Linked DNA regions of Homo sapiens. The protein of the gene in region 2 purifies or fractionates together with the protein of the main gene of each other region. This does not show direct contact. Each region holds a gene or a part of one and is shown on either strand. Other genes may lie near its edges.

Region 1 (2,448 bases), on a different chromosome or scaffold from region 2:
AGTTTGGTTTGTAAGTTCTGATCCACTGCAGTCCTTCCTGCATCAGATACCACAGAAAGGCTGGGCCCATTGCCCCCTCCTGGTCTTGGGACTGAGGACTCTTCCTGCCCAGATTCAGAGTCCGAAGGCCAGGAGGCTGGAAAAGAAACGACTGTCCTCCCGTGGGACAAACTGCCACCTTGGCCGTCGTGTCCTCGTTTGGGGAGCCTCAGATCCGAATGACATAGGCGTCGCTGTGGCTTAGGTGTCGCACCCACTTGTGGGGGTTGGCATTGCCGCATGGCCTGAAGGCCAGCCTGAGGAATCGGACCTGGAGGCCAGAGCACGTGTGCCGGGGAAGCTCGAAGGAGAGACTGGCAGGGCCCAGCCCCAGAGGAGAGGCCGAGGTGGAGAGCCCATGGCTGGGAGGTCCTGGGGGCCCTGGGACGTCCATCTGTGAGGGGCAGAGGCAGGGAGAGGAAGGAGGGCAAGAAGCTGACCACGCTGGGGGAACCAGGCAGCAGCTGCTTCGGGAGGGTGGGGTGGGGGCTGCAAGTGAATGTGGGAGGAGAGGGGCTGGGGGTCCACAGCGAATACCTGGAAAAGGCCTGAGAGTTGAGAGCCTCCTTGCACCCGAGGCAGGTCCCAGCGAAGGGCTCCCTCTGCCAGCTCAGCCTTCTGCTCTGGGCTGCTCAGCTCCTGAGACAGGCTGGAGTTTGGAAAGGGAAGGTGCTGGGCTTGGCACCTTCTTGAGGCAGACCCGTCATGCTGAGCTCACTCTCTCCCCAGGAATCTCCCCGTGGTGGGTGCACACACTCACCTGACCACCCCTCGAGGCAGGGGGAGGTGCAGCCTGACATTGAGGGCTTGGCTACAGAGGAGACGGGAACAAAGTCAGCCCCAGGAAGGCACAGTCCCTTGTCCTGTTCCTCTTCAATGTCATAACAGGATTTCAGCACAGGTGCCCCCCACCTTCCCAAATTCTACAGCCTCTACCTTAACTGGCTTCTGAGGCTGGCAGCTGCATCTGAAGGGAGAAGCAGCAGGTGCCCTGGCCCTGTCTTCCGTCCCATAGAGCTGAACTCAGCCAGGCCAGCCTCACTCTTACCTCTTTGAGAGCAGGTCACATCGCAACTTTAGATAAACCTGGAGCCTGGATGAGAGGGTAAAACACCACGACTCAGGCCATCTTCTACTGGCATCTCACCATTCCCCACCAGGGACCTCCATGTGGGGCTGTGTGGGTGTGGGCTGTACTCCCAAGAGGGAAAAGGGCTGAAGCCCAGCCCAACTCCATTAGCCAAAGCTTTTTCCTTTTTTTTTTTTTCAGAGAGATGGGGTCTCACTATGTTGCCCAGGCTGGTCTGGAACTCCTGGGCTCAAGTGATCCTCCCGCCTCAGCCTCCCAAAGTGCTAGGATTACAGGTGTGAGCCACCGGCCGCAACCCAAGCCTTTTTCCAATTTGCACTCCATCACCACTACCACCACCCCCACTCTGCAGTGAGTCTTGGGAACATACAGGTCTTGGCTTGGGTTCCAAGGTAGTTCTAGAACCCAGGAAATTGTCTCACCGGCCTGAGCCTCGGTCCCACTGCACAGAGGGGAAGAGCCGGAAGGGGAGCGGTGAGGGGAGGTCATCGGAGAGTTGGTACCGCATCACAGTCAGCTGAGAGACCAGAGAGCAACAAGGTTAGTTTGGTCTCACGACCCCACTGCCCCCTTCCCCATGGTGGACGGAATTTATGAGGCCACCCCAACCCTGACCTCGCCCTGAGGTGGTTGCAAGCGGAGGATTCGATGAGACTCAAATTCGTCCAGATTCACAGAGCTGTGAAACGAGACTTCATCGACCCGGATTCCTGGCCCATAACCTGGAAAGAGAGAGAGAGAGACTTCTCTCCTGACTCCTGTTTTGGGAGAGGAGCAAGGAGAGGGGAGGCTCTGTCTGACTTCTCTCCATGAACTCTGGCAATGACCTACTCCAAGGGGAGAAAGACCCACTTTCTCCTCACCTCTCAGCTCTGACTTCCCCACACAAAACTCTTCCGTCAAGCCAATGCGCATCTCTGTCGGAGGAGAGACCATCAGGAGAGCTCAGCAATGCCATGGTTTAAGACACCAAGGAACCCGCCCTAACCCCAACCCTTGGTCCTGCCTGCAGATGCCTCACCAGAGCCGCTAGGAAGGAAGCTCTTGAGCCGAATCTCTCCCTGCACATCCACCTTCAGCAGGGATCCCTGAGAGGCAGGGGCGTCAAGGTTAGAGTCTTTTTTTCTTTCTTTTTTTGAGACGGTCTCGCTCTGTCGCCCAGGCTGGCAGTGGCGTGATCTCGGCTCACTGCAACCTCCACCTCCCAGGTTCAAGACATTCTCCTGCCTCAGCCTCACAAGTAGCTAGGGTTACAGATGCCTGCCACCATAAGTAGCTAATTTTTGTATTTTTAGTAGAGATGGAGTTTCACTGTGTTG
Region 2 (3,500 bases):
CACAGATGGGATAACCATTCTTTTATTTATGTTTTGTTTTTGTTGTTGTTGTTGTTGTTGTTGTTGTTGTTGTTGTTGTTGTTGTTTGAGATGGAGTCTTGCTCTGTCACCCAGGCTGGAGTACAGTGGCTCAGTCTTGGCTCACTGCAGCCTCCGCTTCCCGGGTTCAAACAATTCTCCTGCTTCAGCCTCCCGAGTAGCTGGGATTATAGGCACCTGCCACCATGCCTGCCTAATTTTTGTATTTTTAGTAGAGACAGGGTTTTGCCATATTGGCCAGGCTGCTCTTGAACTCCTTACCTCAGGTGATCCGCCCGCCTTGGCCTCCCAAAGTGCTGGGATTACAGGCATGAGCCCCCGCGCCTGGCCAGGGTAACCATTCTTGATCAAACTAGAACACAAACCTTTGGGGAGCCTGGTATATCCAGCCTTTCCCCCCGCACCCAGTCACTATTCCCGCATTTAAGAAAAACCTACCTTTCCAGGGTCTGGTGGCTGGGCTTCTCTGCCTGTTGAACCAGCCACATTGTGTTTAGACAATCTGGCCATTCAGGGGTCCTCCTGTTGTAGCCAAGACAAACTCAAGATTTTGGGAAGAGCAGCAAATTGCCACAACCAGGGAATAGCTAGTATTTGAATAGTGCATGTCAGGGTTTGCTGCGTGGGGTTTTTGTTGTTGTTTTTAAATTGACTCTTGGTTACCTCCCTCTACACAGACAGCTACAGACAGTTCTTCTAATTCCTCTCAGAAGAGAGAGCAACCTACTCGGACAATCTCCTCTCCCACATCCTGTGAGCACCGGAGGATTTATACCCTGGGCCACCTCCACGACTCATACCCCACAGACCACTATCACCTCGATCAGGTGAGCAGCAGCCCTGTTCCTCTGAGGGCATCAGGGTGGTGCCTCTGATTCTGGAATGGCCTCTTTCCCCTCCTATTCAGCCAAATTCCATGACCACAGGCCTCTCCTGCTCCTGCCTTTACCCCCACTTCATATTGAAAGTGGCATTGGTGGTGGCACCTCAGCCTCATCCAGTGTTTTCTGTGTGCCAGACACCTTGCCAGACCCTTTATATGCTTTATGTGGTTTAATCCTCAGAAACTGCCCCACAAGGCAAGTCTTCAGCCTCCCCAGGTTATCGATGAGGAAGCTGAGGCTTAGAGAGGTGGAGTATCTGATGGAACGAGATTCAAATCCAAGCCTGTTCTCACCCAGGGGGCTACACTGCGTCCTGCATTCCTCTGTCCAAAGGGCCTCCCAGCTTTGTGTGGAAGCCCAGAGCCACAATCAGGACTAAGGAATGCTGCACACTTGGCTCGAGCCCCCAGCCTTACAGGCTACAGGCCCAGTCTTGCTCAGGCGGATGTAGCTGGAGCTCAGAATTCGGTAGTTCAACAAATATTTACCAAGTGGCTGCTTTGCAGAGCAAGTTCCCAAATCATGGGGCATGGACTGGTGCCTGTGTGGGGTGCTGTGGCCACTAGGCTGCTTTGAAATGAGAAAAAAGGGCAGTGAGTTGTTTTGTTTTGTTTTTAAACATAAAACTAGATTTATTTGACTCTTTTTAAAAAAATTATTTTAGATTGTGCTTCCTAATATTTTGGGATTAAAATGTCCTATTTAAAAATCACATTATTGGCCAGGTGCAGTGGCTCATGCCTGTAATCCCAGCCCTTTGGGAGGCCGAGGCAGGTGGATCACAAGGTCAGGAGATTGAGACCATCCTGGTTAACACGGTGAAACCCCGTGTCTACTAAAAATACAAAAAATTAGCTGGGTGTGGTGGCGGGCGCCTGTAGTCCCAGCTACTCGGGAGGCTGAAGCAGGACAATGGCGTGAACCCAGGAGGTGGAGCTTGCAGTGAGCCAAGATTGCGCCATTGCGTCATCGCAACAGAGCAAGACTCCATCTCAAAAAATAAATAAATAAATAAATATCACATTATGCTAGCAGTAGATGGAAATTAACTTTTTTACTTTCCTTACTGTCCAAAATAAAGAATTAGTAAAGCCCGTGTCAGTTTCCGAGATTTGTTTTGAAATCCTTCTGAAATCATGATTTTCAAAAATCTAGGCAACTCTGATACCAAGAATTTGACAGGAATTAAGGTAAAATGTGTGGGACATGGCCCTGCCCTCTGGTAGGAAGTGATGGGTAAATCTAATAAGCGCATGATCAAGTCCGTAACAATATGATAATGACTGTGATGGCGAGAGTTATCAAGTGCATCCTGTGAGCAAGGCTGTGAGCTGACACCCTCTGTAGATTGTTTCTCTTCATTCTCAAAACAGTCCTATGCAGTTCGACAGAAATGGAACCTGAGTCTTAGGTACTAGCTAGAAAATGTCAGCATTTGACTGCAGTGAGTCACTCCAGAGCCACGTTCCTCAACCCCTGAAAAACCTTCATGCCCAAAGGACTTCGAAAGCAAGAAGTCTCAGTTCTCTGCCTCCACTGAGAGGCCCTGGGTGAGCCAGGGTTATATGCATGTAATTAATAAATATTTATTCAGTGTCTGCTGCTCTGGACAAGGCAGGGTTGCAGCCTGTAGCAGGACTAACTGCAGAGAAAAGCCTCTTCCACCCTGAGGGAGAATGCAGCTTAGATTTGCAGGTTTCTAGAGGGTGTGGCTCTTGGTCTGGCCACTCACTATTTGTGAGATCCTGGCAGGAGTGAAACTTCAGTTTCCGGAGCCTTCACTCTATCCTTCTCCTGTCCGCATCTCACCAGATGACATGGTGAGCTACTGTTTCCTAGTGTCCCCTGTCTCTTGAAGGAGACACCCACAGGGAGAAATGCATCTCCTATTGTGATCCTTTGTGGACATATTGTGCACATATGGATAATGAAGTTTCGTAAAACAGGACTTACCTTCTCACATGTATTGCACTCCAGTGTCCTTATTCTATTTCAATTTTTAAAAAGCCAGCCTTACAAAAGAGAACATACCATACAAAAATAGGCAAAACTAATGCAGGCCTTTAGAAGTGAGTGTAGCCCTCACACTGGGGCTAGGAGATCCCTGAGGGAGGCGGAAGATACTCTGGGGCACAGGTCCTGTTCTGCCTCTTGATCTGAGTGTGCCATGCTCCTGAGAACGCATCACACTGTGCCCTTGCCATGTGCACACTCCCCTGCCTGTATGGCAGTGCGTCACCAGAAAGGGAAAATACTGCCGGTCTCAACCCACGAAATTGATTTCCTGGCCCATTAATGGATTGAGACTCTATTTGAAATACATCTCTGACTGGGCGACAGGATATTCAGTAATTTCAGGAAGGGTCTGTTTCTTCACGGAGCATCGTGATGGAGTTATCGAGAAAGGTGCATTTTGGACGGCTAGGGAGGGAGAAGGTGGGGTGTTTTTTTGTTTGTTTGTTTTTTGGCCGCTGCTGTAAAATAATGTCTCCTCTCCTACGGGACAGCCGATGCCAAGGCCCTACCGCCAGGTGAGCTTCCCGGACGACGACGAGGAGATCGTGCGCATCAACCCCC
Region 3 (3,396 bases), on a different chromosome or scaffold from region 2:
GAAGTGAGTAGTCAGTCTTGGTTCAAACTACCACAGATTCTCATCTTCCTTACTGAATTTTTGTAAATGTTCTTGAATAGATGTTTCTTCATTGCCATTTGTCCTCAGGACCATTTCCAGAAGTTTTAAATGGTTGTTTTTAATATTTTTCACCAGTTTCACAGTATGAAAATTAAACATTCAATTTTTTTACTAAAATGTATTATTTGAAAATTCTATACTAAAAATACAATGGAATTAACCCCATCAATTTCATAATGACTATAAAGTAATCAAGTCACAGAGCCAAAGTATAGACAGTTTAGAAGACTGAACTTTCCTTAGCACTAATATTTAACAATAGGAGCCAATTTCACTTAAAATAATCTGAATGTTATATATGCAACAAATTTTAGTCTCTGTAAAGAATCTTATACCAAAAACCCTATAAAAATGTTAAGTAAATTGAGCCTATTTTTACCATAGGCCTGGCCAAATGTACACATGAAAACTGATGAACGTAATGTGCAAAAAGGCTTGGAGAGAGTTTTATTTCAGTTACTTCAAAATACAAGTAGGCTATTATTTTCCTTTGGAAGAAGAAACCAGAAAAAAAACTTCCTGATTGTAACATTGTGACAAATTTCAGATTATATAACACATAACACAGGATAAATGGCTGTAGCATTAATTTTTTTCTCCAGTTACATTCCTTTATACTAAAAGACTAGTATTAAATCTTAGAAGAAAATTTCAATTGTTCTTACGTGTTACATATTAAACACAAAAGCAATTTATTATTATTTGGTACAACATGAACCTCAGTATTTGCTCAAATGTAGAAAAGGATTCCTTAATATGCTGAGAAATATCCTTAGATAAATCCAACTGTGAAAATATAGAAAAACTCCTTACTGTAATTACTGGGAACCACAAAGTTAATTTTTACAGGGTAGAAAAACTCCACAAAAATGGAGATTCATACTTAAAAACCTTCTTTTACTGATAGAACATTCTTTCTGGTATTATAAAATGAACAAAAGTGTACAGATATGGGCTTGGGGCTAGATAATATCCATAGAACTCGCCATTTTAAGCAATAAAAATTGGCATGTGGGTGCATGCCTGTAATCCCTGCTACTTAGGAGGCCAAGGCAGGAAGACTGCTTGAACCCAGGAGTTCAAGACTAGCCTGGGCAATGTAGTGAGGCCACTGTCGCTCAAGGGAAAAAAAGACATGTTTTTAAACACACTTCTAATAAAAAGAATTTTTAAAACCAACTTTTTTGCTTCTAGATAGTCTCAATGCCTTGGATTTAAAACATGACTCCTTCTTGATACAATGAATTATAAAAGCAAACTAGTTCCACATATTAATTATACGTTCAAGTCTAGTTCCTAAAAAGTCATTTCTCTTTAACCTTTCTTACCTATCAATCAATCATTTTCATATAATCTAATGTCTAAGGACTCCAAATATTGGTACGGGGTGAGTATCCCTAATCTAAAAGTCAGAAACAAGAAATGTTCCAAAATTCAAAACATTTGAGCGCAGATATGACACATAAGGGAAATGCTCATTGAAGCATTTCCAATTTCTAATGAAAGATTTTTGGATTAGGGATGCTAAATTGGTAAATATAATGCAAATATTCCAAAATAATAATTTAAAAACCCCACAAAAAACCAAAATCCAAAACACTTCAGGTCCCAACCATTTTGAATAAGGGATACTCAACCTGTAGTACCATGGGAGCCAATCTTCCCCACAGCTAATTCTGTAATTACCATTTTGTTTCTTCTGTAACAACAAACAGTTTAAATAATTTCCAATTATAAAGATAGATAGGTTAACATCATCATCGTTTTTTAACAAGATAACTTTTATGAAGCTTCCAATTTTAAAAAAGAAAAACACTTATCTATTCAGTAGGGAAGAAACAATCTTATTTATTAATGGCCTGCATATTTAGAAAGGGTTTAAAAACACATACATTTCCTGGGACACAAACTTACTTACCAAATGTATGTCCTTACAAAATAACTTCACAGATCAATAGTCTTGAACTTACACAAAGACATATATATGACATACATTAGGTTAATATACATTTCAAATGTTTTTGCAGCAACTTTCTACCAGAAAGTACACTAATGTGAGAATGTATGTTCTCTTTAACCCCTTAAAAATAGTAATAAAAAATTACAAAATAATGTAAATGTAAAATTAAGGCTGAGACTACATATTCTAGTATTAATAAAGTCAAACAAACAATAGTTATAAAACTTGGTGCTGCTGAATATTTTATATATATATATTTATATATATATATATATATACACACACACACACACACAGGATAAGTCTTTTGAAATTTGAAATGCTACCACTGTCACAAGTTCACTCATTGATTTAATGTTGTTCTGGGTATCTTAACATTTCAATTCCCAAATACCTGTGCTTTTAAAATTTTTATCCTGAATTCTGCATTGAGTTTCCTCACATATTTACAATTAAACATCTAGCCTCTAGAACCTCCCTTACACAAAAGACAAAACATCTTTGTTAAATAAATTCACGCAAAAGTAATAAAAAGGTTTTCAAGAAATAGTTCTGACATGTTCATTATATTTATACTGAAAAATAGTACATGTACTTTTCTTCAGGATTAATAAATGCCATGTGCCAGTTTTACAGTCACTGCCACATTAGCACATTTTCCTCTTACACATTTGCAAGGTAGTGACAACCAAAGGGCATAATGTCTGGAATAATTCCAGTAAATCCATAATGTCCAGTAAGATTCATAAAATTGAATGGTTGTTTCCAGTCCCATCTGAATCGAAATGGAAATTCATGCCCAGGTACTTGTATTGTCCCCAGAAATACTCAGTCTGGTAAGTCACCCTCTTGGTCTTCTGAAACAGAGATGCAGAAAGCAGGGCATTCTTACTGAGACCAATGGCCTCTTCTCTCTGTCACCTCTCATACATCTGTTTTGGTTATAATCCTGGTCAAAGGGGAAAGAAAAAAAAGTTTTATGTACCAAAGGTTTCCTTTCCCTGAATTCCCTCATCACACCTGAATGCTTAAATATCCAATGAAACCATATTCTTTTAAATATAATTCTTGGTATAAACAGATTTAATTAAATCCTTATATATAATCATTTCCTTCACATGTATGCAAAACAAGCCCCCAAATAAAAGTAGTTAACACACACACAGTATATAACATATATAAGTAATTTGTATCACAGTGCTTTGAAATGGTATTATCTCAGACCTAAATTCTGCAGATTTTTCCTTTCACCCCCTTTTCCTTAAATGAACTTATTATTTTAAGAACAGGAATTATAATGCTTATTACAGAAAAGTAACAAAGACAAGCAAAATAAAACATTTAATATTCATAAT
Region 4 (3,500 bases), on a different chromosome or scaffold from region 2:
GCAAGACAGCAAGGGCACCCCTGGGCCACTGCTGTGTTTGGGAGGCAGGTTTTGGGGGTTGTCAGAAGGCATTCACCTGGTTCTCTCGCTCACCTGAGACACCCGATAGATTCCTGGAAACTCCAGGAAAGTATCTGAAGATCTGGTTCTCCATTCTCTCTTATTAACAAGGAGAACCACAAGTGCCCCCCAGATCCCGGCTAGAAGGACCAGACAGCTTTCCACCCCGGTTCCCAGGCAGCCCTGCTCCCATAGTCCTGTGTCCCATCGGCCCCATGCTCCCAGGACAGTCCTAATTCCCACCTCTCAGAACCTTGTCAGCCAAGTTCTTCCTGCTCTCTGGCCCAAATCCTCCTCCTACATTGGAAACTGAGCCTCTCTGCATCCTCTGCTCTTTCTATCCCGCTGTCATTCATCAGATTTTCCAAATCTTTGGATTCCTGAGTGGCAGAAGAGGTTTTCTGAGTTTAAGTTCTGATTCTGTGTGTGATTCTCACTCTACCACCTCTTCAAACCTTTGTTGTCTTATCTACAAAATAGAATAGTAGTAATCCATCACCTAAGGTTGTTGTGAAGGTTCAATAAGTTAATGCGTATTTAAAATGCCTCCCACAGTACCTGACATATACTGGGCTTCAGTGAGGTACTAGCTATTATTATTAACCAAGTTTCCTGTGGTAACAGTTGTAGCTTTGTGACTGGGCCAAATCACTTAACCCCTCTGCGCTCCAGTCTTTGTTTCTATAATGGGGATGATGATAATGCCTAGCTCATTGGATTGTTCTGTCCCCTACGATCAGCCATGTTAAGTGATTCATATCATGTCTGGTACTTAAAAATCACGCCACGCATGTACATTATTATGATGAAAAATATGATCCGTGATATCCTGACCAAAATATTAAAGGGACTAAAGATAGCTGTGGCTTGTTCAAGAAGAATATTGTGTCACTATCCCATATATTATCCCATTTGCTCTTCACAGCTTCCATTTTTCGCTAGGCGGATGGCATGGAACTTTTTATAAATGAGATATTATGAAAAATGATGTTTTAGGACTCTCATTTCTACAGTGGGAGTAGGTCACCCATTGCAATTTTGGATTTGCTTAAAAAAATTCTTGCCATCACCTTCTAATGGATGATCTGTGTACAACAATTGTTTATTGACTCTGAATGTCTAAGTACCAGGGTCAGTCTATTTCAAGGGGAGGGAAGCATTAATTAACCTCCAGCATTAGATTCAGTGATTCTTTTCCAATGATGCAGTTCATGACTTTGCTCGCATTTACTTTTCATCAATCCTGAAAGAATTGAGGTAAAATAGTTCCTCTGCACATGTGTGTCAAGCTAAATGGATAACAGCAGATACAGATCTGTTTGCCTGTCTGCACTTGCCTTTAGACAAAATTCATCAATTTTACAAAAGCCACTGACTAAACATGGCACCAATACAAATGAAGCACTTCTAGCAGGCGGAGATTCCCTTTGTTTCTGATCTGGTAAATGCGGTAGTTTCCTGCTGAGAGATGGGAAGTGCTGGCCTAGGACAGCAAGGTGCCCTACAGGTGGGGCCAAAAGGGTCAAGACCGTTCTACAGGAAGTTTAGGAGAAGTTCAATGGTTCCAGATCCTGTGTGCTTCGGGTAATTCTGACCCTCTTCATTAGTGATAATGGCATGAAGCTCTTTCACACAGTCTTTTTTTTTTTTCTTTTTTTTTTTCAGACAGGGTCTCACCCTGTCACGTAGGCTGGAGTGCAGTGGTGAGATCACGGCTCACTGCAGCCTCGACTTCATGGGCTCAAGCGATTCTCCTGCCTCAGCCTCCTAAGTAGTCGGGATCATAGGCACTTGCCACCACATCCGGCTAATTTTTTTGTAGAGACAGGATTTCACCACATTACACAGGCTGGTTTCAAACTCCGAGGCTCAAGTGATCTGCCTGCATCGGCCTCCCAAAGCGCTGAGATTACAAGCGTGAGCCACTACGCCTTGCCCTCCACACAGCCTTGCTTGGTGTTAAAGATTAAACAAAGACCACAGGTGATCACTGTCTTCGTGGTGCCAGTTTCAAGGGCACCCTTCTTCCCTTCCCAGCCTCCGAGAGAAGGAGAGAGGGTCCACAAGCCAGATCCATCCCCATCCACACAGGTAAAACCACGACTGTGCAGCTAGCAGGTGGAGATAACATTTGGAAAAAGGCTTTGTAAATGCTAAAGTCCTACTCAAGTCCAAGGGAGAGAAATTATTATTATTCGTTTTGTGAAACCAATTTAGTTTGGCTGGGTAATGGAAGAATTTCTACATACATTCATTACTTCTGATCAGGCAAGACCAGTCTGACACAGGAACAGTCTATGGCTCACTCTTAAAGCCACAGCAGGCTGCCAGGGCTTGGAGAAATAGAAACCTCTCTTGCACAAGAATAGTCTCAATGAATCATGTTAAGGCCTCTTTAGGTTTTTCAGACTCCATGCACCCTGTGGAAACTGCCTTTCTTGAGTAGAGGTACGTTCAGCACTTCATAAAATAATCTTGGAGCCTCCAGACACACGGATGGAGGAGCATGATTTCATTTGTTTCTTTGCAAAACTGCTGTCCCCAACTGAAAAACCTGATTATCCTTTCAAATAGGGAATTCGGCTTTCCACGTTGGAACCAGAACAGTTAACCTTCAAACCCCCAAGGCTTGCAAGAGATGAATCAGTTTCTCAGACAGCCAAAGCCGTGGCTTATAACTCATCCAACCCAGAAAACTGGACCGCTGGTCACCTTCCTTCCCCCTGCCCCCAACTCTGCAGACAGAGGTTTCCCGTTGATTATGCCTTGATTAGAGTCAGGAGAGAAGCAAACCAGGTATATAGGATTCCATTATCCTTCCCTCCTCTGCTCCCAACCAGGGTCACGCTGAGAGGGATCTCGGTGAACATGTGAACAATCAAGCCATGTTTACCATGGACGTTTAGTTTTCTTTTCTCAAAATCAAAACAGAGTTTAGTAGGCAGCGTATTTCATACATGCCCCTTGATCAATGGAATGATCTGTCAGAAGCCATTAAAGCCCCCATTAGCTTGAATGCATTCAAAGCTAAACTATTGGATCATTTAAGGGCTGCAGTGATTGTTTTTAATATACCGTACATTGATTTCTCCCTGTGAGCAGCAACATAAGTTTGAAACTAACTGTGTATGACTAAGGCTCCATTTGCTGTCTCCAACCCTCTGTGAGAAGCATGGTTTCACTTCGACCAGAAATGTCTGTGTATAGTTTTCAAAGAGATGCAGACCCTGTTCGATTTCCCAAGATTTAGACTGGGTCGGGTTGTTATTTCTTTTTTCCCTGAGCTTTCTCCCATTTCTTTGTGCCCATTAAGTGAGCTGTGCGTGCAGAATGGGAGAGGCATCCCTGCCAAGGACTTCAAGTGAAAGGCGGTGGGAGAAATTGTTCTGAAAGCATGAAGCCCAGCTGAGGCCAAAATCAAAGTGAATTTGACAGCCTTG

Evidence for each region.
Region 1: the proteins of SPRED2 (region 2) and AP4M1 purify together in Homo sapiens (affinity purification with mass spectrometry; one large-scale study listed by BioGRID and IntAct). This does not show direct contact.
Region 3: the proteins of SPRED2 (region 2) and SMCHD1 purify together in Homo sapiens (affinity purification with mass spectrometry; one large-scale study listed by BioGRID and IntAct). This does not show direct contact.
Region 4: the proteins of SPRED2 (region 2) and FTO purify together in Homo sapiens (affinity purification with mass spectrometry; one large-scale study listed by BioGRID and IntAct). This does not show direct contact.

The regions. Positions count from the first base shown.
Region 1 is NC_000007.14:100,104,643-100,107,090, reverse strand, and holds part of AP4M1 (AP-4 complex subunit mu-1), read right to left. Parts: intron 2,218-2,448; coding exon 2,151-2,217; intron 2,047-2,150; coding exon 1,993-2,046; intron 1,852-1,992; coding exon 1,745-1,851; intron 1,647-1,744; coding exon 1,552-1,646; intron 1,133-1,551; coding exon 1,088-1,132; exon of another isoform or gene 976-1,087; intron 851-975; coding exon 800-850; intron 689-799; coding exon 577-688; intron 434-576; coding exon 209-433; 3' UTR 1-208. UniProt on the Homo sapiens protein: Component of the adaptor protein complex 4 (AP-4). Adaptor protein complexes are vesicle coat components involved both in vesicle formation and cargo selection. They control the vesicular transport of proteins in different trafficking pathways.
Region 2 is NC_000002.12:65,314,100-65,317,599, reverse strand, and holds part of SPRED2 (sprouty-related, EVH1 domain-containing protein 2), read left to right. Parts: intron 1-716; coding exon 717-866; intron 867-3,430; coding exon 3,431-3,500. UniProt on the Homo sapiens protein: Negatively regulates Ras signaling pathways and downstream activation of MAP kinases. Recruits and translocates NF1 to the cell membrane, thereby enabling NF1-dependent hydrolysis of active GTP-bound Ras to inactive GDP-bound Ras.
Region 3 is NC_000018.10:2,802,122-2,805,517, reverse strand, and holds the end of SMCHD1 (structural maintenance of chromosomes flexible hinge domain-containing protein 1), read right to left. Parts: intron 2,991-3,396; coding exon 2,966-2,990; coding exon of another isoform or gene 2,883-2,965; 3' UTR 501-2,882; downstream 1-500. UniProt on the Homo sapiens protein: Non-canonical member of the structural maintenance of chromosomes (SMC) protein family that plays a key role in epigenetic silencing by regulating chromatin architecture.
Region 4 is NC_000016.10:54,116,656-54,120,155, forward strand, and holds part of FTO (alpha-ketoglutarate-dependent dioxygenase FTO), read left to right. Parts: 3' UTR 1-3,500.